Linked DNA regions of Homo sapiens: all the other regions are linked to region 3. The links come from fine-mapping of genetic effects on gene expression. A gene starts in region 3. Each other region holds a variant in brackets. All regions are shown on one strand. Distances are between the middles of the regions.

Region 1 (8,186 bases), 82 kb before region 3:
CACTGCCAAAGGAGAAGCGGACAGGGTTATGGGGAAGGAACATACACATCATCATACATGTCTCCAATATAGAAAAATGCTGCATTCCCAAATGCTGCATTATGAATGAAAACATCAAGGCAGGTAACACCATGAAGCCTGTGTCTCTAATCTGGCTACCCAAATAAGGCTACTAATGCTCATCAACAGGGTAGTATTACATTGGTAAGTGTGAGTGAGTTTGCAATTCGATGAAAAAAATATATATACAACTGAAGATTTCTAAAAGATAATTCACTAACTTACATTCACCCTTTTACATGGCTAGTCAAGAAGAGCAAAAGAATGCTCTTACATGGACTGAGACTCAGGTTTTAAGACCCTGCCAGATTTAATAACCTCTAACTTTTTACCTTGAAAGTTACTGAAGTATATAACACAGTTGTATAAAATCAATGTACAAAGTAGTACATTATTTCAAAACCCACAATTAACAGCCTATGAAAACCAACTCTTTCTGGTATTAGCACTAGTTTCATACATCCTTTTAAATGTTAGGGACATTGAAACATCTTACTTCTTCATTACTGAGTGCCTACTTTGTGCTAGGCCCTGAGGATACACATGAGTAAAATATGGTCCTTGCACTCTCCATCTAGTTGTGGGGAAAATAAACAAACAATGGCAGAGTATGCCACGATTATGAAAGAGGAAAGCAGTCTGAGTGGTGGAATGGATTCTTCTTCCTATAAAAAGAATATAAAATTGGGTTTCCTATCCTGATTCCCAACTCACAAATTAAAGTTTCGGTTATGGACTGCTTGTTGTGATAAAATAATTTTAGTATGATTCCTTCTGGTTGGAAACATCTTCCTACCAGATTTAACTACAAAACTGACCTCTACTCTGGAATGTTCAACTGGCCAAGAAAAGTGTTACATCAACACCAATCACTTTTTTTTTTTCTATTCCATCACAAGATTGGGGATATCATTGTGTTCCTTTCCTCTTATGTCCACTGAACCCTCTGCTGTATTTTGTAGCCTTTCAGATCTAGGCGTTTGTCTCATTTTGCTGTTTCATTTTATTTTCACTTAACTAGTTAACACTTTTTTTAAAACAATGAATGAATCATGTCTGTAGTGGCCACTGCGAGCAAAGCACCATGGGAAATGTAAAAAGGAACAAGAGGTTGTCCTTGTCCTTAAAGATTTCCAACCTGAGTCAGGGAGACAAACATGTAAACAAACAATACGGTGTGAATCAAGGGGAATGTGGGTGAGCGCTGAGAGATGACGAGCAAAGAACTCTGCTGGCAGAGAGCTCCCAGCTGCAACACAGGCATTAATTACGTGTGCTCTGGGAGAGGGGAGTCTTCTATTTTTTGATTCCCCTCCCCAGAATCAGTGCTATTTGAAAATCCCACGTAGGTAAGAGGACAGGGAGGCATACAAAGCCTAGCCATGTTATTTTTACAAGTCAAATATGCTACTGCGTTTATCTAATACTTAGATAAAAATTATTTTTCAGGCCATTGCTTATTGAATTTTCTCTCTGTGTCCTCATCATTAGGTCAGGAGTGGTTTCCAGTAGGTGCTCCACAAAGAGCAAAAAGATGGGGATACAAAACTTGTATAGTAGAATTTTTTTTCCAAGTCCTATTTATCTCATCTGTTTTGCCTGTATCTTGCTTCATTCACACCAGAAAAAGCTGACACATTTGTGCCGTTGTCTGCTGAAGGTTAGTCTTCATGAAATTTAACATGAACATTTGTCCTTTCAAGCAGCTAATTCCTTTTTAAGCAGCTAAATGTTCACCTATGTCTTTCACGGGATGACTAATTGTGAATGTAAGCAAGACAACTGATGAAATTCAGATATAATTGTTTACAATTTTCTATTACTGCTCTTAATTCATTCTGTTTCTGTCAACTATCATACCCTATTTTCTATATTTACAGTGCACTTGAAATTGTTTATGCAACTTAAAAAAATTAAATGGTCATCTGAAAAGTGTTTGGTGCACTCGAATGAGATTTTTTTCTTGCAACTTTTATCAGGGGCTGTTTGCCTAAAAACTTGCTGCTCTAGCCAAAATGTTTTTAGCACAAAATTCTAGCAATAACCTCAGAGCTATCTTTTCTTTGCCACTTAATTTTACCAAGAGCAAAAAGAAGGGAAAAAAAAGTCTCTTCATTTTGCCATTGCATGGCAAAAATGCACATTAACTTAACTCTTCTATGGCAGAAATACAAATGAAATATGTCCAATGCCAATGTTTAAGTTACTTTTAGGATTTCCGTTGACTATCTTATTTTTTCATAATCTGACTTCTTGGATATCTATTTTAATTCTTTTGATTTTGAGAAAATGTACATGTTTGTACCAATTCTAAAGTCTCAGCCAACTATTCAATATTTTCAGCGATTTAGGTAAATCTTACTTCAAATTCTTACTAACAATGCCACATAGTATACCAATCATTATCATTTTTATTCTATCTTATATTAGAAGATGGCTTTTAAGCCAAAATGTTATTTTCTTACAGTTAGTTTGATATGCTATGCTCACAGAGAACCTGGCTGTCTTTTGGCTGGGATGTTCCCAGCTAAAAATGAGAAATCAGAGACAGAAAGCTGAGTAGGAACATAGGATGTGGAATTAAGATTGACCTTTATAGAATATTTTTATCATTCCTAAGAGATTGGAATATTCAGCATACTAATAATTTTCTGATTTAAATATAAGTAGACATCACCATATTAATTTCACCAAAAAAAATGTTTAAGTTAATTTATCAAAAGGAAGGCAGGGAAAGAGAAAAAGAAAGGAGTGAAGGGGCTGGGTGCGGTGGCTCACGCCTGTAATCCCAGCACTTTGGGAGGCCGAGGCGGGTGGATCACCTGAGGTCAGGAGTTCGAGACCAGCCTGACCAACATGGTGAAACCCCATCTCTACAAAAACATACAAAATTAGCTGGCTGTGGTGGAGCATGCCTATAATCCCAGCTACTTGGGAGGCTGAGGCAGTAGAATCGCTTGAACTCGAGAGACAGAGGTTGCGGTAAGCCGAGATCACGCCACTGCACCCCAGCCTGGGCAACAAGAGTGAAACTCCATCTCAAAAAAAAAAAAAGAAAGGAGTGATGGAAGAAAAGATGGATGGATGGATGAATAGATGGATGGATAGGTGGGAGGGTGGATGGATGGACAAATAGATAGATGGATGAATGGATGGGTGGATGGATGAATAGATGGATGGAAGGATAGATGAATGGATGGGTGGGTGGGTGGACGGATGGGTGGAAGGATGAATAGATGGATGGATGGGTGGGTGGATGGATGGATGGATGAGTTAGTGGGTGGATGGATGGATGGATGGATGGATGGATGGATGGATGGATATATGGGTGGGTGGATAGGTGGATGGGAGGATAGATAGATGGATAGGTGGGTGG[GTGGA/G]TGGATGGATGGATGGATGGATGGATGGATGGATGGAAGAATACAAGGGAGGAAGGAAAAAAGGGAGAAAGGGGGGACAGAAGTAGGGAGGCAAAGAGAAGGGAAATATAGTGGAGTGAGTTTTTATGTGGGCGGTTAAGTTCAAAAGTTAAGCAAAAGTCATATATAGTCAAAATTAACTTTGAAAATCCTTTGGCTTTCCCACAAGACACTCCACACAGGATTTTATGTATACTGCACAATCCTTTACTGCACTTTTCATGTACACTGAAGTGTGATAACTATTGGGTTAGACTACAAGAAAGAACTCAATGGAAGAACACATGTAAAAGTCTGTACATTCAAACCATTCCTCTTTTAAAATTAAGTATTGTATCACTACAGTTAAACGGGGGGATTAGATAAAGATAAGTAAAATATTGGTGTTTTCCAGCAAGTATTACTTCATTCTGTTGTAATAGTAAGCTTCTTTAACTTTAATGAATATTAACAAATGTACTGTTGTTAAAGTTAAAGGAACTGTAGGATCTCCTATTGAGTTCATAATGTGGTAATATTAAGAGTAATTTTTAAAATAATTTCTTTTAAAGATAAATATTTAATGTGATTGCTATATTATCTGCCTTTTCAAAAAGTTAAAGCACATAGTCAAGTAAGTGTCAAAAATTTGCCAAGGCCCAATACACCTTTATTTTTCTTTCCTAGTTTTTCACTGTCTTGAAGTCTTTTACCCACAGTCTCCCATATTCAATACAGATAATAAATTCTATCAGAATGTGTAAAGTTCAAATAGGTATCAGAGGCTGCTGCCCTGCCTCTTTGCTCTGTACTCTTGTTTTTTTCTGGTGGGAGCAGAATTGGCCTGTGTAGAGGGTCAGGGGTAGACCCAGGCATCTTTGGGACACTGTAACTAATTATCACAACATTTGCTTTCAGAAGCCCCAGAAAGGCCCCCTACCCCCCAAACATGTCCTTCTGTTCCTTCCTTTTCTTTCTTTTCCTTCTCTAATCTACAGTGTGCTGAGTTCCAAAGCAAATTCTCATCCATTATACTTTTCAGCTTCTTTTTTGAAACATACATTCCTCCGGGAGGATTAACAAACTGAGATACTAACAAGCTGTGTGGTTCATTCATCAGACCCTTCAAGGGAAGAAGGACCCAGGGCAGCTCTGACACTGGGGCAGGGGTGAGGCATCACCCAAGAGAGAGCAAGGGGCAGGTTCCAGAAAACAAGGGAAACCAGTTACTGTCCTATGCTCCAACTGCCTAAACCTTAAAATGAAACAAATACAAGTAATGGGTGTTTTTCACTGTTATATACAAGGCAGCCTATTGGCCACATAATTCTTAAACAACCAGAAAAAAGCTGAAGTATGACCATCAATACGGGACATGGAACATGCCAAAAGATCGAAAGATTCTTTCTTCCCCCTCTTTAGGACTAAACAGCTGTGGGCATAAAGAAAAAATAAATTCCATTATTTTAGAAAGCATAATATTCCACCCTTCATTATTTCTTTGAGAATGGTTGGAATTATTACATCTACGAGAGGTTAGCCTCTATCGATTGAGTGATTTCATTAAAAAAATTAAACCAGTGATTGAGCTAAAATGAGTGGCCAAGCTACAAGACCAAAAATTGTGTGTGGTCAACAGGTGAGAGGAATGTGGAATATAGGAGCTACCTAATCAATTCCAAAGGAAGGGAGACATGATGATGATGATTGTTATTTCTCCCCACCAATGGGACAGTGCTCCAGTAGACCCCAGGATCTTCTATTTAATGGCTGTTGTAAGACTCTATCTCTGTTCCTCTTGGAAGAAAAGGTGCCACTGAGGACAAGGGAACAAGAATCTGTGTCAATCAACAATGCCCCTGAAGTAAACCAGGCAGGTCCGCACTGCACAGTCTCAGCTGTAATTCTATCCCAAGAAACCAGAGCACAGGACCAGAGCCACACTTAAGCCTGCAGTGTAGGGTGACGCCATGGGGCCACGTGACAGCCTGCCTCTCCAAAGCTGTTACTGTCAGTAGTATTTAGAGGAAAGGAAAAAAGTTGTAACAAGTGTAACACGAACATTAAGGAATACCAAGTCAGAGCCAATTAGGACGATAATTTGGCACTCCTGCCTCATGCATATGAAAAAGGATCCGCCATCAATGAGCAATAATGCATGGGATTTGTGGGAATGCTCTAACTTCAATACATCAAAGACGCTGCTGCACACCTCCGTCTTTTTTATTCCCATTAGCTCACCCTTGTCTGGATGAAAGAGCTCAGTGAATCAACTGCTTCTGTTGAACTGTTTATATATTTTTCAAGTCATGATTAGGCCATTAGTCACTGAGCATATTGCACAGTAAACTAGAGTAACTGCCATTATGCAACTTCCCAAGAACATACAGAGAGCATTTACAGTGAGGCCACAGTGCCAGCAAAATGTGCAATGGAGACTATTTATCAGCAATTATAAGAACTGTGCATTTAAATGCCAAATAAAATATACACGTGGCAGATACAGAACTTGAGGGGGAAAAGATGCATGATTAAAGTACCAATATTTGCTCTTCTGAATGTATTAGAGCCTGAAAACGAAAGTCCCCCTGAACCAGAAGCGAATCTTGAACTCAGTCTCAGTTAGCTTGGTTAGCCGCTGTTCTCCTTCCGAATGCCCCCATACCTGCCAACATCTGTATCTGAACACACTCAATGTTGGGTCCAACATAAGGAATTTCCCTTCTTCTTTCTTATTAAAGATTCCCAGGCCTCAGCATCACCCCCTACCCAAGCACTTGGATAATTCAGTAGAGGCCACTGGGGAGAACTTTTTTTTTTTGAGATGGAGTCTCACTCTGTCACCCAGGCTGGAGTGCAGTGATGCAATCTCAGCTCACTGCAACCTCCACCTCCCAGGTTCAAGTGATTCTCGTGCCTCAGCCTCCCAAGTAGCTGGGATTACAGGTGTGCACCACCACACCCAGCTAATTTTTGTATTTTTAGTAAAGATGCAGTTTCACCATGATGGCCAGGCTTGTCTCGAACTCCTGACCTCAGGTGATCTGTCCGCCTCGGCCTCCCAAAGTGCTGGGATTACAGGTGTGAGCCACCGCGCCTGGCCTCTCTGGGGTTTTCTGAAGCCACATAGACTTACATGTTTGAGGATTTCCCATTCAAAGTCCTAAAGAACACTAATAGAAGAAAAAGAAAGGAACATGTAAAAGTGGCATTTAATTTATCAGGACCCTTAGTCACATTCACATACATTGCCCATGATAAGCCAGTGACAAATATAATTGAAGTTTTAAAGTACATGTGCAAGGGATCAGCTACTTGAAACCTCCCAGCAGGAAAACAAGAAATAAGGGACCATGAGGAAGAGATCCAGGTCTCCACATTTACTGTACAAGTAATAACATAAGCAAGAGACTTCCTAAGAGTGTTTTATAGTATTTTACATGGCAAGACTCTTACTCTCCAGTCTGTTAATCCTCACTTTCCCGCTTCTATTCATATGCTTTATATGTATTTATTTGTTGAGTTATATATTTTAGCTGAACTTGGAATGACAGTTATTTTTAAGAGGCTACCAACATGGGTCAGGAAGAACCTCAGAAACCTGGCTCACAGTTGCTCTGGCATAAAAAGCCTTGACCGCCAAAACCAACCAGGGAGTTGATGAGATCTAGGTTTCCAAAACACCACGAAAAGGCATCTTTTGCTTTCTCCCATCTGGCCATTAAAAAAAAAAATAGTTATTTACCAAAGAAGATTCTTTTTGTAATACAATCAATCACTTCCTCCTGTGTTTAGGGTTCAAATCTAGAAGTCCATATGTCAGTCTAGCTTAGAGCAAAATGTAGCTTTCTTCACCTTGGACTAGAACAACCTATGAGAGAAAGATGGTGCCCAATGGGCCAGCACACAGCTGCTTTCTAAATTGACAGCCCTGAGCTTCTCCATGGACAGTGTTCCAAAACTAACTGTGGCTGTTAGGATAAAGAGGGCAGTTTCTCAGCTTCAGTGCCTTTAAGGTTATTTCAACTTTCCACCTCTGTTAACTACGCTGCAGAAACTTTTGACACTGAACTCTCCTTAATATCCATAAGCCAGAGATGTTCATTAGAAAAATTTCTCACTCCTCATCAGACAGCTGAAGACCTGAGTCCTTTGTCTTCCCCTATTCTGGAGATCACATTGAAGGGATTTTTGGGCTACCTGAAAGTGTTTATGACAGACAGACTCTTGGATTCAGGCTTAGGACAAGCAAACCTTTCATATGAGTCCTTAAAAACAGACAGTGCTCTGTTTGTAACTTTGAACTCCATTCTAGTACAAACATGCTTGGCAACTAGTGCCGGAGGGTTAACCAGAGAGTTTTCTTCCTGGCAAATTGCTCTGCCGCCACCATGGGTATTAACACTCCAGGATCCCTGCAACTTTCCCTTCTTCCTCTATTCCTCATCCCCTGCCCTGAGATATTATCTGTGCCCAAGCTGCAGGGGTTGAGGTCACACATCTGGTGCCAAGGAGCTGTCAGTGCCTCCAGCAGTGGCACAGTTCATGGTTCACGGTTCTTCTCCTGGCCCCTCCCTTGGTCTGGCATGCTGACAGAAAATTGTTCTTTTTTTCATCATTTGTCTGTGACTCAGAGGCAGACCATGGGGCCAACAAATCCAGCCCATGATCACGCTTGAAGGCACAGGGATATCTAGAAGTCATCCCCCAAACTTCAGGGACTATTGT
Region 2 (8,186 bases), 55 kb before region 3:
GGTGCTGGAGAGGATGTGGAGACATAGGAACATTTTTACACTGTTTGTGGGACTGTAAACTAGTTCAACCATTGTGGAAGTCAGTGTGGCGATTCCTCAGGGATCTAGAACTAGAAATACCATTTGACCCAGCCATCCCATTACTGGGTATATACCAAAAGGAGTATAAATCATGCTGCTATAAAGACACATGCACACGTATGTTTATTGCGGCACTATTCACAATAGCAAAGACTTGGAACCAACCCAAATGTCCAACAATGATAAACTGCATTAAGAAAATGTGGCACATACACACCAGGGAATACTATGCAGCCATAAAAAATGATGAGTTCATGTCCTTTGTAGGGACATGGATGAAGCTGGAAACCATCATTCTCAGCAAACTATCGCAAGGACAAAAAACCAAACACCGCATGTTCTCACTCATAGGTGGGAATTGAACAATGAGAACACTTGGGCACAGGAAGGGGAACACCACACCCCAGGGCCTGTTGTGGGGTGGGGGGAAGGGGGAGGGATAGCATTAGGAGATATACCTAATGTAAATGACGATTTAATGGGTGCAGTACAACAACATGGCACATGTATACATATGTAACAAACCTGCAAGTTGTGCACATCTACCCTAAAACTTAAAGTATAATTTTAAAAAAATTCCTTTATAACTCTATATTTCTCTTTATAACCTCTATGAAAAGTATTGCAACTAGGTTTGAACAAAATCATGTAAACAAAAGACTTGGAGACTAACATCTTAATTTTAACAATGACTATACTGGGCTGTGGGGGTAAATGTTTCCTTTCTTTACTCAGTTTAGGAAACTGTGCCTATAATAAATAGTACATCTATGGTGAATGTACTTAATGCCACTGAAATGCATATTTAAAAATGGTTAAAGTGGGTTGGGCACAGTGGCTCACGACTGTAATCCCGGCACTTTGGGAGGCCGAGGCGGGTGGATCACCTGAGGTCAGGAGTTCGAGACCAATCTGGCCAACATAGTGAAACCCCGTCTCTACTAAAAATACAAAACTAGCTGGGTGTGATGGCGCACGCCTGTAATCCCAGCTACCCGGGAGCCTGAGCCAGGAGAATTGCTTGAACCTGGGGGGTGGAGGTTGCAGTGAGCTGAGATCACACCACTGCACTCCAGTGCAGGCAACAAGAGCGAGATTCCATCTCAAAAAAACAAAGCAATAACAACAACGGTTAAAGCAGCAGCTTTTATGTTGAGTGTCTCTAACTACCATTTAAAAACTTAAATCTGTATAAGAGAGCAGGCAAAACACGTCATGGAGCCCACACTGTACGAATGTTTTGGAGGTGCGCACTGAGTTAAAAATAAAAAACATGGAATTTATTTTCATTTCCTATCTAATTTGGTCTCCAGAGCCTGCTAAGTACAGTTTCCATTTCTACTCGGGTGCAAGAGCAATGGCTTATTTGCTGTTTTACGGAGCAGTTCCTTAACTATCATTGCCTCTGAACCCCCTTTCCCCCCAAGATTGACTGTCGGTCTACAGAATCAGTTAAGTGCTACAAATCACTACTAACAGCTCCTGCGAGGCGCTCCCTCTAAGAATCTGTACAGATCAAAATCTCAAGTGCTTACTTGCCCAGGGACTGCCATAATTTGAGGTGTTGCTTCTTTTTAAAGTATAAAAAACAGATGCTCTAAGCTGATGAAAGTAAATGTCCTTTCAACACATCTCTTCCCCAGCACTTGAAAATCTTACCAACAAGAAGTACTTCCCACACTCCGGTCGGTAATTTCTGCACTTTTTTACTTTTCCTTTGAAGCCGCAGTGCAATGTGATTCTACACCCGGGGTGAAACAATTCCTTACGGGGAGCCTTTGGAGAGCACCCCAAACAAGGGGGCTGCTGGAATGCAAGTGTGATGCCCAAGGAGACTGTCTCCCTACCTCAGAGCTGAAGTGATCAAATGCTTCTTGACAACCTTCACGAGAAGTCTCAAAGTTACACACACAGGCTTAGTCATTTCCAAACGTCTGCACCAATGTGCAGAACTTTTCCTGCCCTGCTCTCTAAGCACTCAGCGAGGGGGAGGGGGCACAGTGCAAAACAGACCAGTGAATCAAGCGACCACACTGTAGCCCTACACCAGTGCTCTGCAGGCCCCCTTGCCTCCTCAGGCCTCACCTCTCTCATCTGTAATTGCAGAGATTGGACCCAGTGATCCTAAAATCCCTACCCGCTGGAGCATCCTAGAGTCTCTGTGACAGGAATATGACACGATTGCCCACAGCAGTTCACACAGAAGCCAAAATCCAGGTAGTGAGCCTATGCTGGGACTTGGGGGAGGGCTAAAGTGAAGGCAGGGATCAGAGGGTGAGCAAAGAAATTAATGATACAGAATTCCAGACCTACTTCAAACAATAGCCCTACTGTTTTGCTCACCCCACACTAGGTTTTAGGGAAAGAGATATAAGGATACCTCGTCCTCTGTGAGGTGACTCAACAGTCACAGACCCAAACTGAATGATGGAGCAGAATAAAATCAAGTAACGTAAACATCCACATAGTCCAATTCTTTCCCTGATCCAGTAAGTCACGGAGGCCGTTCCTGAGATCCAGACCTATTTATACAAGTGCAGGCTGGGCACCTTTCCCTGAAGGTCCCACTCAGTTATTCTCTTGGTTCCCCAATCACAGTGAGTGGTGTCATTTGCCCATTCACTTCCTCAAACCAGACACTACCCCCCTCTCATTCACTTCCAATATCTAATTGCTCATCAAGTCCTCTAAATCCTTGCTTATTAACATCTCTCCAATCTGCTCATTCTTTCCATTCTGTCACTTCCATTGCCACTCCAAACTCCATGAGAACAAGGGGCCTGTCTGTCCTGGTCCCTGCAGAAGCCGCAGCACACAGACCTGTGATTAGCATGAAGCAGGTGCTCTGTGGTTCTGGAATTTTCAACATTCCTCTGTCACCTGGATTTCTACAACTGCTTCCTCTCTGGTCTCCTTGCCCACCACCTGGTCCCTTATCATGCCAAATGCATAGCACTAACAGAATGAAATCACTGAAACACACACCTGACTTTTCACATCCCTACAGTCCTTGAATGGGTCTACATTGCATCCAAGATAAAATCCAAGATCTCTGCTTGGCTCACAAGGGCCCTTCCTGATCGAGACCCTGAGCCCCTCTAGCGGTGTCAGGCCTGCCTCACTATGGACCTACCAAACTGCTTATTGCTCCTTCAGCCCATCCATATAATACTATTTTGCACTTCTTTTGTCTTTCTTTGCCCAAGCTTGTCTGAACAACTCCTCATTCTGAAAAGCTTGGACTGAAGGACGTGCTCTGCAGGCCTTCTCAGCACCCTTTCCTCCAGTCAACCTGACTCAGGTATGAAACATACCCTACCATAATGCTTAACAGAGAGCAATGATTAATCTGTTGCCTGCTCCCAGTACTAGAGGTCAAAGACCACATCCTATCTTATGCTTTAGCCTCAATACCTAGAGCAGAATTTGGCGCCCAATACGTATGCAAGAAATCTTTGTTGAATTAATGAAGAATGGAGAAAGAGAACGAGAGGCAGAGAGAAAGAAAGAGATCTTAAAGGAAGAGAGGGCCGGGCACAGTGGCTTATGCCTGTAATCCCAGCACTTTGGGAGGCCGAGGCAAGTGGATCACGAGGTCAGGAGTTCAAGACCATCCTGACCAACAAGGTGAAACCCTGTCTCTACTAAAAACACAAAAAAATGGTCCGTGCGTGGTAGTGCACACTTGTAATCCTAGCTACTCAGGAGACTGAGGCAGGAGAATTGCTTGAACCCAGAGGCGGAAGTTGCAGGGAGCCGAGATTGCACC[A/G]TTGCGCTCCAGCCTGGGCGACAGAGCAAGACTCCATCTCAAAAAAAAAAAAAAAAAGGAAGAAAGAAAGAGGACCCTGAGAGGGTTAAGTGCTTTATTCAGGGCTAAATAAACCAGACTGGGACAAGAATTCAGGCCTCCTAACTTTCTCTGATGGATCCTCCTTCTTCCAATCCATCCCATAAATGCTTTTCAAATTTCTCTTCTCTTCACTTTATCACCTCCCGCTAGACGAGCTTCTACAGTTTTCCTAACAGCTATTGAATCTCTATCATCTCTTTTCAATCCTAGACTTAGATATACAATTTTCTGTCACCTAAATGTCTCATTGGCAGCTCAAATTCAAAAGATGAAGAAATGAAATAATTACATTTCTAACCACCCTGCCACCAAGAAAAAGAAGTTGTTCCTCCTCAGGAATCTGTAGGCTCCTCCTCCCCATTCATACAGTCAGCACTTGAGACAGAAATGTGGAAGCTAGCATCTATTTTTTTTAATTACTATTTCTATACTAGGACATATACCATGTGTTTTACATGTCTTATTTCATTTAAAATGGCAGAACCAAACCTTGGTAAGAAGTCATGCAAATGGAATTTGGGAGGGAAGAGAATAGGGTAGGAAAAAATAAAAGAAATCTGATATTTGCCACTCATACTTGGCACCATCAACTTCTCTTTTTCTCAAACTCCTCAAATACAACACCAAATCCTCCCGGTTGTTCCACCAGTCCTCCCACTCTACTGCCACTACTCTAACCTGGACCCTCCTAAAGTCTCCTGGACTTCTTCAAGAGTACCTAGATGGTCTCTCTGTCTCAATAACACCCCAATGAATTCTATCTTCTACTCTGCCCAGAGAATGAACTTTCTAAAAGTAGAAGTCATTTCCGGTTCCAAGCAAGGTGGGGAAGTTGCACAGGCTAGAGGTTGATGCAGCTGAGAGTTATTTTCCATGTGATGGGGAATTCTTGCAGGAAAGAAGGTGGTTAAGTCTCAGTAGAGGGAACACTGGGGAAAATAGCAGACTGAGAGAGAAGAGGTCCAATGGTTATGAGTGGGGGAGTCATTTGGGGAACTTAAAAATTACTGATAATTTTTAGACATAAAGGAAACTATGTTTATACCTAAGTTTATGTTTAAATAAAGGTATAAATGCTACAAGAATAAAATAAAATGTGTTCGGGAAAAAAAATCCGATCTATCCAAAGGAAGAAAGCAAAACAAAACAAAACAAAAAGTAAAGCCAAGTAGAAAACATTAAATGAAGCTAAAAATCTTAATAAAAATGATTACAGTAAGGATAACTGGGTATAAAGTCACTAATCAAATAACAGAGACAAGTACAGAGCTATGCACAATATGTGGTGGGGGGGAAGAATGATGCGTGTAAAATGAACATATACAATGACATTAAAACTAAAAGATTTTTAAAAAAGAAAATATAAGCAAAACTAAAAACAAAAACCAGGATAGCACTCTGAATATCAGACAAAATGGAATGTAAGGTTAAAAGCATTATAAATGATGGTGAGGGACATCCTAGGCTGGCAAAAGGAACAACCAATAAAGATGATTTTATAATCGTCAACATACATGCATCTAACAAAATGGCACAGAGATATTTAAAGCAACAACTATGAAGAGAAATAAATAAATAAAAATGTAATTAGCAATTAAGGAAAAAAGGGAAGCTTAAAAATTCCCCACGTCTGTGAATTAAAATGTTTACTACTAGACAATTCCCAGAGGAAATAAAATGGAAATACAAAATACTGAGTTAAGTGACAATAAAAGTATATATCAAAATTTGTACAATGCAATTAAAACATAAGGGCTCATTGCAAGACCTCGGCTGAAGTCTGAACAGCCTGCAGCTCTTGTAGCCATATTCAGATCAGTAGATTTCTAGACAAGGAGAATTGCCAGAGTTAAAGGGTCATTTCATAATAATTAAAGGGTGTACTTATTAGGAAGATACATCAATCTTAAAAGTGTGTGTACCTAGGAACAGAAAAAAAAAGAAGACGTTCAAATCAGTGATATAGAGAAAGGAAAGCAAGCCAGGCACGGTGTCTCATGCCTATAATCCTAGCACTTTGGGAGGCCAAGGCAGGTGGAACACCTGAGGTCAGGAGTTCAAGACCAGCCTGGCCAACGTGGCGAAACCCTGTCTCTACTAAAAATACAAAAATTAGCTGGGCACGGTGGTGCATGCCTGTAATCCCAGCTACTTGGGAGGCTGAGGCAGGAGAATCACTTGAACCCAGGGAACAGAGTTTGCAGTGAGCCAAGATTGTGCCACTGAACTCCAGCCTGGGTGAAAGAGCGAAACTCTGTCTCAAAAAAAAAAAAAGAAAAGAAAAGAAAAAGAGAAAGGAAGGAGGAAGGAAAATTAAATCCAAAGTAGGGAAAAAGAAGGAAATAATGAGAAGAACAGAAAGCAAACAGTAGTTCATTCTTTGAAGAGCTTAATAAAATTAATTAACATCTAGCAAAACTAATCACAAAAATAAGTAAATGAAAACATCATTAAAAATGGAAAAGGGGATATCACTATAAATCCTACAGACACTAAATAGATAAGAAGAAAGTATTACTAAAAACTTTATGTCAATAAATCTCACAACTTGGATGAAATAAAAAACTTCTTGAAAAATAGAAAGCATAACTTACCAATAGCAAGAATAAACAGAAAATCTGAAGAGTTGGCTATATGTTAAGAAATTGAATTCAGTATCAAAATCCTTGGCACAATGATGATACAACTGTTCTGTATCCTGATTGTGGTGGTAGTTATGCAACTCTACACATGTTAAAATGCATAGAATTGTACATCAAAAAAGGGAATATTTTACTTTATAATGTTTTTAAATTAAATTTTAAAAACTTAGAACCTTCACACAAAGAGAACTCCAAGCCCAAAGATTTCACTGTGGAATTTCATCAATTTTAAGAGGAAAGAAAATCTTACATAAATTCTTTCAGAAAATAGTAAAAAACAGGAGGACTCCACGAATACATTTTATATAATCAGTATTACTAACACTAACACTAAACCCTAGTAAATATTATATAAAGAAACAAAATTACAGACCAATGTTCTTAATAAACATAGTCGCAAAAATACTTAATAAAATGTTAGCCAAAATATCCAGCAATAGGTCAAAATAACACATAATTATAACTGGTTCTTATCCCAGGAACTCAAGTTTGGTTTAACACTTAAAACCAATCAATATAATTCACCACATAAAGCGGAAAACCATATGACATCTCAACAGAGGCAAAAATGAACTGCACAAAATTCAACACACATTCCCGATAAAAACAAACAAACACAAATTCTTAGAAAAAAGAGAATAGAAGGAAACTTCGTCAATCCAATAAAAGGCAAATGAAAAACCTACAGCTAACATCATGATGAAATAGTGGTGAAATAGTTAATACTTTCCCTGTACGATCAGAAAAAAAGTCCTGGTTATATAAATAATTTGAAAAGGATGATTTAAAAATTACATGTATTATATCGAAAAGCATAAAGTACAATTAAATTTTACCAAAGATATGCAATGTCTCTGCAGGAAAAACAGGGAAACATTCCTGGCAGAAATTCATTAAAAAGGCAGAGAAAGATATACCGTGTTTTTGAATTGAAGTTTCAATATTGTTAAGGTGAATTTTCCTTAAATTTCTCTCTTATGATTCAGTGCAATCTGAACTAACTTCTAACAGGCTTTTTTGGGGGGTAGGGGGATTTATATGGAACTCTGAAGGAGATAGAACACCACCAAAATAATCTTGAGGGAAAAAACAAGACAGAGAGGACTCACGCTATCTGTTTTCAAGATTTACCATAAAGCTATTTAGTTTTTAATTTTAACATTTATTCATTATTTTTGAATTTTATTGTTATTATTTTTGAGACAGGGTCCAGCTCAGTCACCCAGGCCGGAGTGCAGTGGCATGATCACAGCTCACTGTAGCCTCAACCTCCTGGGCTCAAGCGATCCTCCCACCTCAGCCTCACCAGTAGATGGGACTACAGGCACATGCCACCTCACCCAGCTGATTTTTGTATTTTTAGTAGAGATGGGGTTTTGCTATGCTGCCCAGGCTGGTCTCAAACTCCTGAGCTCAAGCAATCTTTCTGCCTCGGCCTCCCAAAGTACTGGGATTACAGGCATGAGCCACCACACCCAGCCTATTATTATTATTTTTAATAGAGACACGGTCTCACTCTGCTGCCCAGGATGGAATGCAATGCTGCAGTCACTGTAGCCTCAAACTCCTGGGCCCAAGCGATCCTCCCACCTCAGCCTCCCAAGGTGCTGGGA
Region 3 (8,186 bases):
ACTGACTGGCAGTCACAACTAAATCAAGACATAATTCTCAATTATCTTTTCTTTCAAATACCAGGGTTATGAAAATACTCCCCCCCGCCCGCCCCCTGCCCCACTTAGTTGGATTGCCTGAGCAGCACAGAGCTTCAGCAACTAAAGCAACTTTTCCTTTTTTCCTTTTTGCCATAATATTATTTCTCTTTGCTTAGCCAGCTTTATCAGTGGTGCCCTAATGCAAAGACTAGAATACTGCTTTCTAACTGCTCACTAAATTACATCCTAAAATAAAGTACATGTTTATTGTCCAAAAGCACCATGCACTATCAGTCCTCTAGCTATAGGCCTCTATCGTTTCTCGCTTAGCTAAGGAAAAAAAAATCCTTTTAACTTACTACCAAAGATCATTCAAATCACAGCCAATAGATCCAAATTAAGAATGAATACATTCAGAATGTCTGCCTACTGTCAGTACCAGTTTTTGTTATGATGGCTGTCAAGTTTTAAAATGTGACAATGGGAATATATTTTCCGAATAAGTTATTCCCCTGAGTAAACCCTTTAGAAATCCAGCCATCGCTATGGGCAATGGAGGTTCCAAATGATGAACGCTCTTCACACTTGAAAGGGTTAAGTGACTGACTGCAAGGCCAAAGGCACCAGACTGCAAAAGAAATGTTGCTTTAGTGAGCTCTGAAAGGTTTCTAACAAGTACCAAATACTTGTTGATCTGTTCACAATAAACACCAGCAGGATTGTCAGGCTCCTTTCACTGTCTGGGGAGATGCATTTACATACTGCACCTAGGAAGAACAGCTTGTTGGTCTCCTTTATAAAAGTTGAGTAGCTAGAAGCCTCATTCAGTGTCTCCCATCCAAATGACTGAAAGAAGATGCAATTGAAATAGTGGAGTCTCTCGTCTGGCTTGGGCAGCATAAATGCTGTGCATAAAACACTTGGAGTAGTTCAGGCACAAGACAAACCCACCTGAATGGACGAGGAACACTGTCTGTTGCCATGGCAGCCTGATCTAATTACATGAGTGATCAGGACTGGAGTAAGTGCACCGAAAACCTACACCACTGACAGGCAGCCAGGAGGTTCAGGGGAGCCCTTCAACCTCTGCTTTATGTAGAAGATGGCATTCAAGTCCATTTATTTGCGGAGCTGCTAAAATATTGACTGATGCATGCACAGTGAGAGGGCAATCAGAGGAGATTAAATGCCACAGCGCTAGCCGTTATGGTGCAATCCCTTTCCAAGAGTTCCTGTGCAGGATTTTCTCTTCTCTCTGGTGGTTTCCTCAGACATAAGCTTCACTCCAAAAAAAGCTCAAGTATCAAACTACCTTTACCCATCAAATAAACCGAAGGGTGGGCTTAAGGGGGGCTTCTAGGAACTGCAGCCTCCTAAAAAACCCAAACAGAAATGTCTCAGCTAACACTGTTGAAAAAGTAACTAGCTGTGCCTAAAAATAACCAAGTAACTACCCACTGCTGTGTGCAATATATAACAATGATGTTTAAATATTAAAAACAGCCTGCATTATAAAACACAAATGTCATTGAGATGTGACTACTAGATTGCCAAAGGAGAACTTATTTGCATACACACATTCCCGTGCATGCACGACAGGATGTGCAGGGAGAAAGCCACTGTAAGGCATTAGTTTTTATTCTGTGGGTGTAATAGGGTCTTCTAATTTTGCTAATTGTATCCTGTGGATCTCGCAGGGAAGCTAAGAATCTCTTCGGGGACAGAACCAGTTTGGAGGAGTCCCTACTGCACAGCATACGGTAAACAAAATAAAAATAGCTTGCCTTTCTTGTTAGCCACATCGCGCATTATATAACCAGCTTCTTCCGACTGTTTTTTTTTTTTTTTTTTTTTTTTTTTTGCCCTTACTACTCTTCAGCAATTTCCCTCTTCTCAAATATTTATATTACCCTTTTATCTGTAGGATTATATACCAAGAAAGCAAAACAAAACAGAGCAGCCACGGGCTCGAACCGAATCCCCGCCGTCCTTAGAAACGGATTTTTTTTTGTTTTGTTTTGTTTTCTGGCAGAGTCTCGATCACCACCCTACTTCCACCCCCACTAAGGTTCTTGCTCAATCTCCCTAGAAAACCTGAATTGTTTCATCCCTTTCAGTCAGCCCCCTACGTGGTCTGAAACAAAATGAAAGCACAAGCCACGGAGTTTAAGAAGGCAGCCTGAAGGCGGGGGGCTGAAGAGGGGTCGGGGCGCTGCAGAGTCAGCCAAGTAGCCAAGGAAGGGCCCCCTCCGCGTCGCGACGGCCCTCGCCCCCCGCCCGGCGCGCGCGCGCACAAATACACACACACAGTCACTCACACACTCACTCACACTCACGCCGCGCTCCGACACCGCCTCACCTCTCGCTCCGCCCGTCCGGCCCCCTTCCCTGCCCCCTGCGGGACCGGCCTGCGCGCAGCACTGGAACCACGTAGGAGGAGGCGGCGGCGCCCCCGGGAGTGGCAGAGTCTCCGGCCCGGCCCAGAGTGAACGAGCAGTGGGGCTCCAGGGCGCATCCCAATCCCCGCAGCGCCTCCTCCGCGGCGGCCGCCGCCTCCTCCTCCTTCCCCTCCTCCTGGCTTCATTCACCCTCCCAGCAGCCGCGCAGCCGTTCACTCCCGGCTCAGGGCAGCGCCTGCCGCGGCTCCTCGTCTCCTGCCGCGGGTGCTGGCGGGGGCGCCGGCCCGGACTGGGGCGCTCGCGGGCTCCCGGCTCCGGGCGGCGGCTGCCGCTGCACATGATCAGGAAGCGGCCGCACCAACAGGGCGGCGGTGGCGGCGGCGGCCAGGGCCGTCACCGCCACTCCAGCCGCGCTCCAGGCACCCGCACACCCGCTACCCCCGCGCGGTCCCCGAGGCCACCCCTCTGCGCCCCCCGCCCGGCACCCGGCCGCGCGCAAAGTCCCGTCCCGGCTGCAGGAGCAGTCCCTTCCCCGCCCGCAGCCGCACACCCGGCGAGGCCGGCCCTCCGAGGGGAGACCCCCGCCCCAGGGCGCCGAGGCCGGGCGACCACCCGCGGAGAAGTCCAGCCCTCCGTGAGACCCCCTCTCTCTCACCGCCCTCTCCGGGGAGGAGGAATGGGAAGAGGGCGGCCGGGAAAGGGACCACCCCCCAACCCCAGCCGCCGCCTCCCCCCTGCGCCACCCGGAGGGAGGAGGACATGGCTCTCCGCACTTGCGACCGGACCAGCAGCCGGGGGAGCGGGGCGCCGCCGCCGCTCTCCCCGCCCGCGCCCCCCGCCCGGGCGCGCCCCCTAGCCCGGCGGGCGCCCACCCAGCCCCTGACAGCCCCCCCGCCGGCCGCCCCTGCGCCCAGAGTGGGGGTGTCGGCCCGGGAGCCTGGAGCCGGGGACGGTTGTATGTACACACATACACACACACACACACACACACGCACACACACAGAACACGACGCGTCGATTTCCTTCGCTCCTCTTCCAGCTGTTTTCCGTGCAGCCGATTGGGGTTTTGGGTTTGTTTGCTGGTTGTTGCTTTTGCCCCTCTCGGGAGATCGGGGGAGGAGGGATTTTAATCTAAATAAGGGGAGAAGGGAATGGGGGAGGGGGGAAAGAATCGGAGGAGGAAAAAAAAATAGTCACTTACTGTAAAGTGTAAATGGATCTGGGGTTGCGTGGGGAAGGGGGGGCAGAGGGAGAGAAACAATGTCTTGCGGCTGCTGTTGCTCTGGCTGCTGCTCCACGGGGCTTGTTTTGGATCCCCCTGCAGTGAAACAGGTCCTGTACGGCTCCGCCACTGTAGTAGAAATGATGTCTGCGGTATACTCTGCTCTCTCCTCCTCCTCCTCCTCCTCCTCCTCCCCCTCCTCCCGCTCCCCTCCCCTCCCTCCTCCCTCCGCCCGCCCGCCCTCCCTCCCTCCCTCGCGCTCTCTCGCGCTCGCTCGCTCGCTCGCTCCAGTATGTAAATGTGTAATAGAAGCCAAATATGGAGCAGTTGGCTGCCGCCGCCGCAGCTCAAGGATCCGACTTCATGGGGGTGGGGGGCACCCTCTGGCGGGCGGCCCGGCGAGCCGCACAGAGCACGGCGAGCGCACCGCGCGGCGGCCGGCCCGCGCCCTTAACCCTTCGCTGCGCGCCGCCCGGGGAGGCGGGCACCTTTCCCAAAGAGTGGCTCGGGATGGGGTGCGGGGGAGGGGAGACGCGGACCGGAGGGCAAGGTTCCTTCCAGGTTTGGGAAGGGGGCGGGGAGCTGGGCGATGAGGTAATTTGAGCGGTGACGGGTCGGTCCTCGCGCGCCTCCCTGGGTCCCTGCACCTAGTTGGAGGGGACTGAACGACAACGGGGCGCTACTCAGGCAACCTGGGGGACTCCCCCAAGGGCTGTCAGGCTTCAGCTGGGAGCCGATGCAACACCCCAGCGGGGAGGGGAGGTCGGCCCATTCTAATCCCGACGTGTCCTTGGTCCCAGGCGCTCGGAGCAGCATCTGAGAGGGCTCACTCTGATCATCAGCTGCACGTTAAGCCACAAACCGGCGTCGCTTCGGCGTTCCGGAACCCAGGCCTGGGGGCCGCGGGGATTGCCTCTGCGTGCAACTCCGGAAAGTTTCAAGGGGTCCCCCGACTGCACAGGTACCCTCACCTTTCCTGCCGGCGAACGCTGGCGACCGCCCGACCCTGCCCTCTTTCTCTCTTCGCACGCAGGTCCGGAAATCGGCTTTGATATGGAACTACTCCGCTCTAGCCTGGAAAGGAGACCCGCGCACTCCTCTCGCAGCTAATTTCGGATCATTAATTTAATCGGAAATGAGGTAACCAGTGTAGGAGACAGAGAAAGCAACCGGAGCATCAAATGGCAGTTCTCGAGAATCGACGAGGAACTTAAATCTGGACTCAGGGTTTCAGTGCGGTCTCCGACTCCCACCACCCCGCCCCTCCGCCTGTCTCGCCGCCAGGTGTGACCTCCACGCGAAGGAATCTTCTTCGGATGGGTGCACCTTGCCAACAGGTGTGGCACCTGGAGGACTAGGAGGCGCCTCCAGACTAAGGGCGCTCAGTGCGGCGTTCTTGTTGCAGATGATTCTGGAAGGCCGGTAGGTGTCGGGCGACATTTGACCTTCTTCAGGTGCTTAGAACTAAGTGTCTGGAAACATGATCCTTTCGCGTAAGTTTCTTTCTGAAAGCCACCAATCTTGACTGTAAGCTGTATTTGAGAGATCTTTTGGCTGAGTTTACTTATGACCTAACGGTTAGTCACCAACTGAGGCAGGGCACAGGATGACCAAAAAAAAAGTGTCAGTTTTTACACAACTCTGGCCTGCAAGAGCCTACGTGCTTCATAAATAAAAATAAACATACGAGCGAGGAAGGTGCAGAGCCCCGGAAATATTTTTTTCTCACATTTTTGAAATACCATGCACATATATGTGGCTATTTAAGTATAACTACTAGTGTTCACTCTTACTCATTTCTACAACTTTTTTTTTTCCATTTAAAAATCGATTATTGTTACGGTTTAAACCTCGGGTTGGTCTAAAGTGACATTGTTGGTCTCATTACAGCCTCTAGTGGACAGTTAACATCAGTTTCCTGAAAAGGCTCTGACTGGTTTTGTTTTCGTTGACAAGCTTTGTCAAGGTGAAGGTTAGTACGTAAGAGCATAACCGGGTAAAATGTCCCCTCACCCCTATCCTCACCCCCGCCCCCAACACCCTGCTTGGCAAAGACGACTTCAGAAAGGAGCAGAAGCTTGTTGGCTTTATATAGAAAAGACGTATGCTTTGTGCTGCAGGTATTATTATTACTGGACTGTGAATAAACAGAAAGCTTCTGCTATTCATTTCAGTTTCAGACAGCTTTCATAAAAACTAAATTCATCTCAAATATTTTTATAACAGAAAATATTGGTTGCCATGTTTTTGGCTTAACTGCGATGTTTTTATTCCAACTCATAATCTGCAAACTGTCCAATCCACCTCCACTCTATTTTTAGACATCTTACATTTAGATAATTTTCAGTTAAAAAAAAGCTAATATTGTAATTTTACGTTGGCACAAGCAGTTAATTTACGTGATTTTAACAACCTTAAATTAAAACACATAATTCAGATTACAGTTAGTCAATTAATTTAAATGTTCTCTCAAGGAAGCTAAATATGTATATTACCCAAATGGTAAAAACAATTAATAAGAAATGTGTCATTTACTTTCTTAGCCATTAAGTTTAAAGCCATAAACTGCCACCAAAATCTGTAACTATTTCTTCCTGCAAGATCCAACATAAACACCATACTCATGAAACTGTCTCATTACCTTTAGTACTGAAATATTTTGTTTTCAGATGGCAAAATATTAAGTGTACAATCACAAATAACAGGCACTGATTCTTTAGAAACAAGACTTTCTCGTGCAAATAAAAACTCAATGAAAAAGGGCAGAGCTTCCAAGAAGCTAGTAGACAAATATATAGTACTATAGTCCTACTCATAAGGCTGGTGTTATGTTTGTAAAAGCATAAGTCAACCTTTGAAATTACAGGAAATCGATAAATAAGGCCTGATGAGCTTGACTCGTATCCTGTGTCATAGATTGCTTAAATACCATGAAAAATAATTGTAATCACATATCTATTTTACTGTTTTGGTGGTATCTACTCTTGAAGGTGTTAAATGGGCCAGCAAGTATATATTATATAATTACATATTACACCCTTACTTAAAGTGTAGTTTTCAAAGTCGCCACAGCAGCACTTGGGAGCTTTTTAGACATTCAGAGTCAAGGGTTCTACCCCAGACATACCAAATCAGAATCTGCCTTTGAACCAGGCCCCTGGGTGATTTCTAAACACATTATCATGTGAAGAACACTGGTCTATACCACAGGGATCAACCTAAATAAATTTGGGCACAAGTGCAGAAGTTAATTCCTCTATTTATTTCTTTTTTGCTCCTTTTTAGTAAGTACAGCCCTTATTAATTTGTGCTTTTCAATGAAAAATTATTATGTTATATGCTTTGGATAAATACTACTGCACTGTAAGTGCACACATCTGCATCATTATTGCCAAAAAAGAATGCTCTGCTGAGGAATGTACTGGGGTCTTGAACATGAACATTTTCTTCATGGCAGCAGAGGGAGCACAAGAGTGCTTAATAAAACCAGTGCACAGGTCTCTCCAAATCATGACAGATTTTACATTGTAGTATATGTTTTCATTGGAAGTAGCCTGTTATGTAGTTCAAAATGAAGCAAATCAACTGAGCAAACACAGATAGGCTTACCAGGTCATAACAACTATGTAACTGAACAGATTGAAAGTTGAATAAAATAAAGATAAACTTCTTTAGAGTTTTAGGCTTGAATTCTTAAAAGAAAGTGGACCTCAAAAGTGAAAAAGATGCCTTAGCTTTGCTCAAAAACAAAGATAACACAACACAGAATCAGGCAACCCTAAGATGCCTTAGCTTTACTCAAAAACAAAGATAACACAGAATCAGGCAACCCTAATAGTAGCTCCTGTTTATCTAAAAACAGAGTCAGTTCACTGGACCCTACATCAGGTAACTTAATTTCATTTGGTGTCATACATGTTGGTTAAGGTCCATGCGCCTTTTGCTGTGTTTACACTCAGAATAATTTTAGGGGTTTCTCCTTAATGCTTGCAGTGGTGAGGATTTAGGTTTCAGTTATACCTACGTAGTATTTCATACTTTTCACTACTCTTCCATATTGCATCCTCAAAAACTCCCTTGAAGCAGATAACATACTTGGTAAAAGCCAAGTATCCAAAAAGTTATGGAACCACATCGTGCTTTCATAACATTGAGTCATTTAATTGTTTCAGTAGTGCTTTGAGGTATTCATAAATGAGGGAAATTATACAGACTAAAGATCCAGAGCATTTTTTACAGTTTTAAAGGTTTTTCAAAGTTATTCTTAGATAATATGTTTATATATTTATTATTTATTTACAAGCAGTCACTTACTCTGCATCTACAATAACTAAGACTTGAGAATATAAAATTGAGTAAGACATCTTAGTGTGCAAGGAGATCAGAGCAGAACAGATCTTACCTTTGGAAAACTGTTAATTTTTACCACGTTGAAACACAAAGATTCATAGTTGATGCGATCCAGCACCTGCCAGAATCATAGCAATCAGACTTCCAAATATGAGAATCAAACATTAGAATCATTAAAAATTTGAGAGGCGGGG

Alleles and levels. Alleles are on the strand shown, and positions count from the first base shown. SD is a standard deviation of normalised expression in the study named. Not every link is listed here.
As copies of GTGGA replace G in region 1, the expression in monocytes after Pam3CSK4 of the gene that starts at base 3,784 in region 3 goes down (moderate effect, 0.67 SD a copy in Quach 2016).

What was found. PIP is the estimated chance that this variant, and not a neighbour inherited with it, causes the effect.
Region 1: its variant is fine-mapped to the expression of ATXN1 in monocytes after Pam3CSK4 (Quach 2016, PIP 0.92).
Region 2: its variant is fine-mapped to the expression of ATXN1 in whole blood (TOPMed, PIP above 0.99).

What each region holds. Positions count from the first base shown.
Region 1 is chr6:16,675,936-16,684,121 of GRCh38, forward strand. All of the region lies in intron 2 of ATXN1 (ataxin 1), which reads right to left. Among named protein-coding and RNA genes, the nearest start is that of ATXN1-AS1, 81 kb to the right of the region's middle. The variant GTGGA/G (reference allele first, on the strand shown) is at 3,437.
Region 2 is chr6:16,702,834-16,711,019 of GRCh38, forward strand. The region is part of intron 2 of ATXN1 (ataxin 1); the gene reads right to left. Among named protein-coding and RNA genes, the nearest start is that of ATXN1-AS1, 54 kb to the right of the region's middle. The variant A/G (reference allele first, on the strand shown) is at 3,851.
Region 3 is chr6:16,757,677-16,765,862 of GRCh38, forward strand. ATXN1 (ataxin 1) reads right to left here and starts at 3,784. Exons shown (of 8, transcript NM_001128164.2): 1 at 3,622-3,784. It overlaps ATXN1-AS1 (ATXN1 antisense RNA 1), which reads left to right and starts at 3,462. Exons shown (of 3, transcript NR_136240.1): 1 at 3,462-3,490; 2 at 4,443-4,603; 3 at 4,676-8,186. RefSeq lists silencers at 2,192-2,551, 2,562-3,041, 3,112-3,241, 3,718-3,877, 3,885-4,100 and 1 more and an enhancer at 4,238-5,437.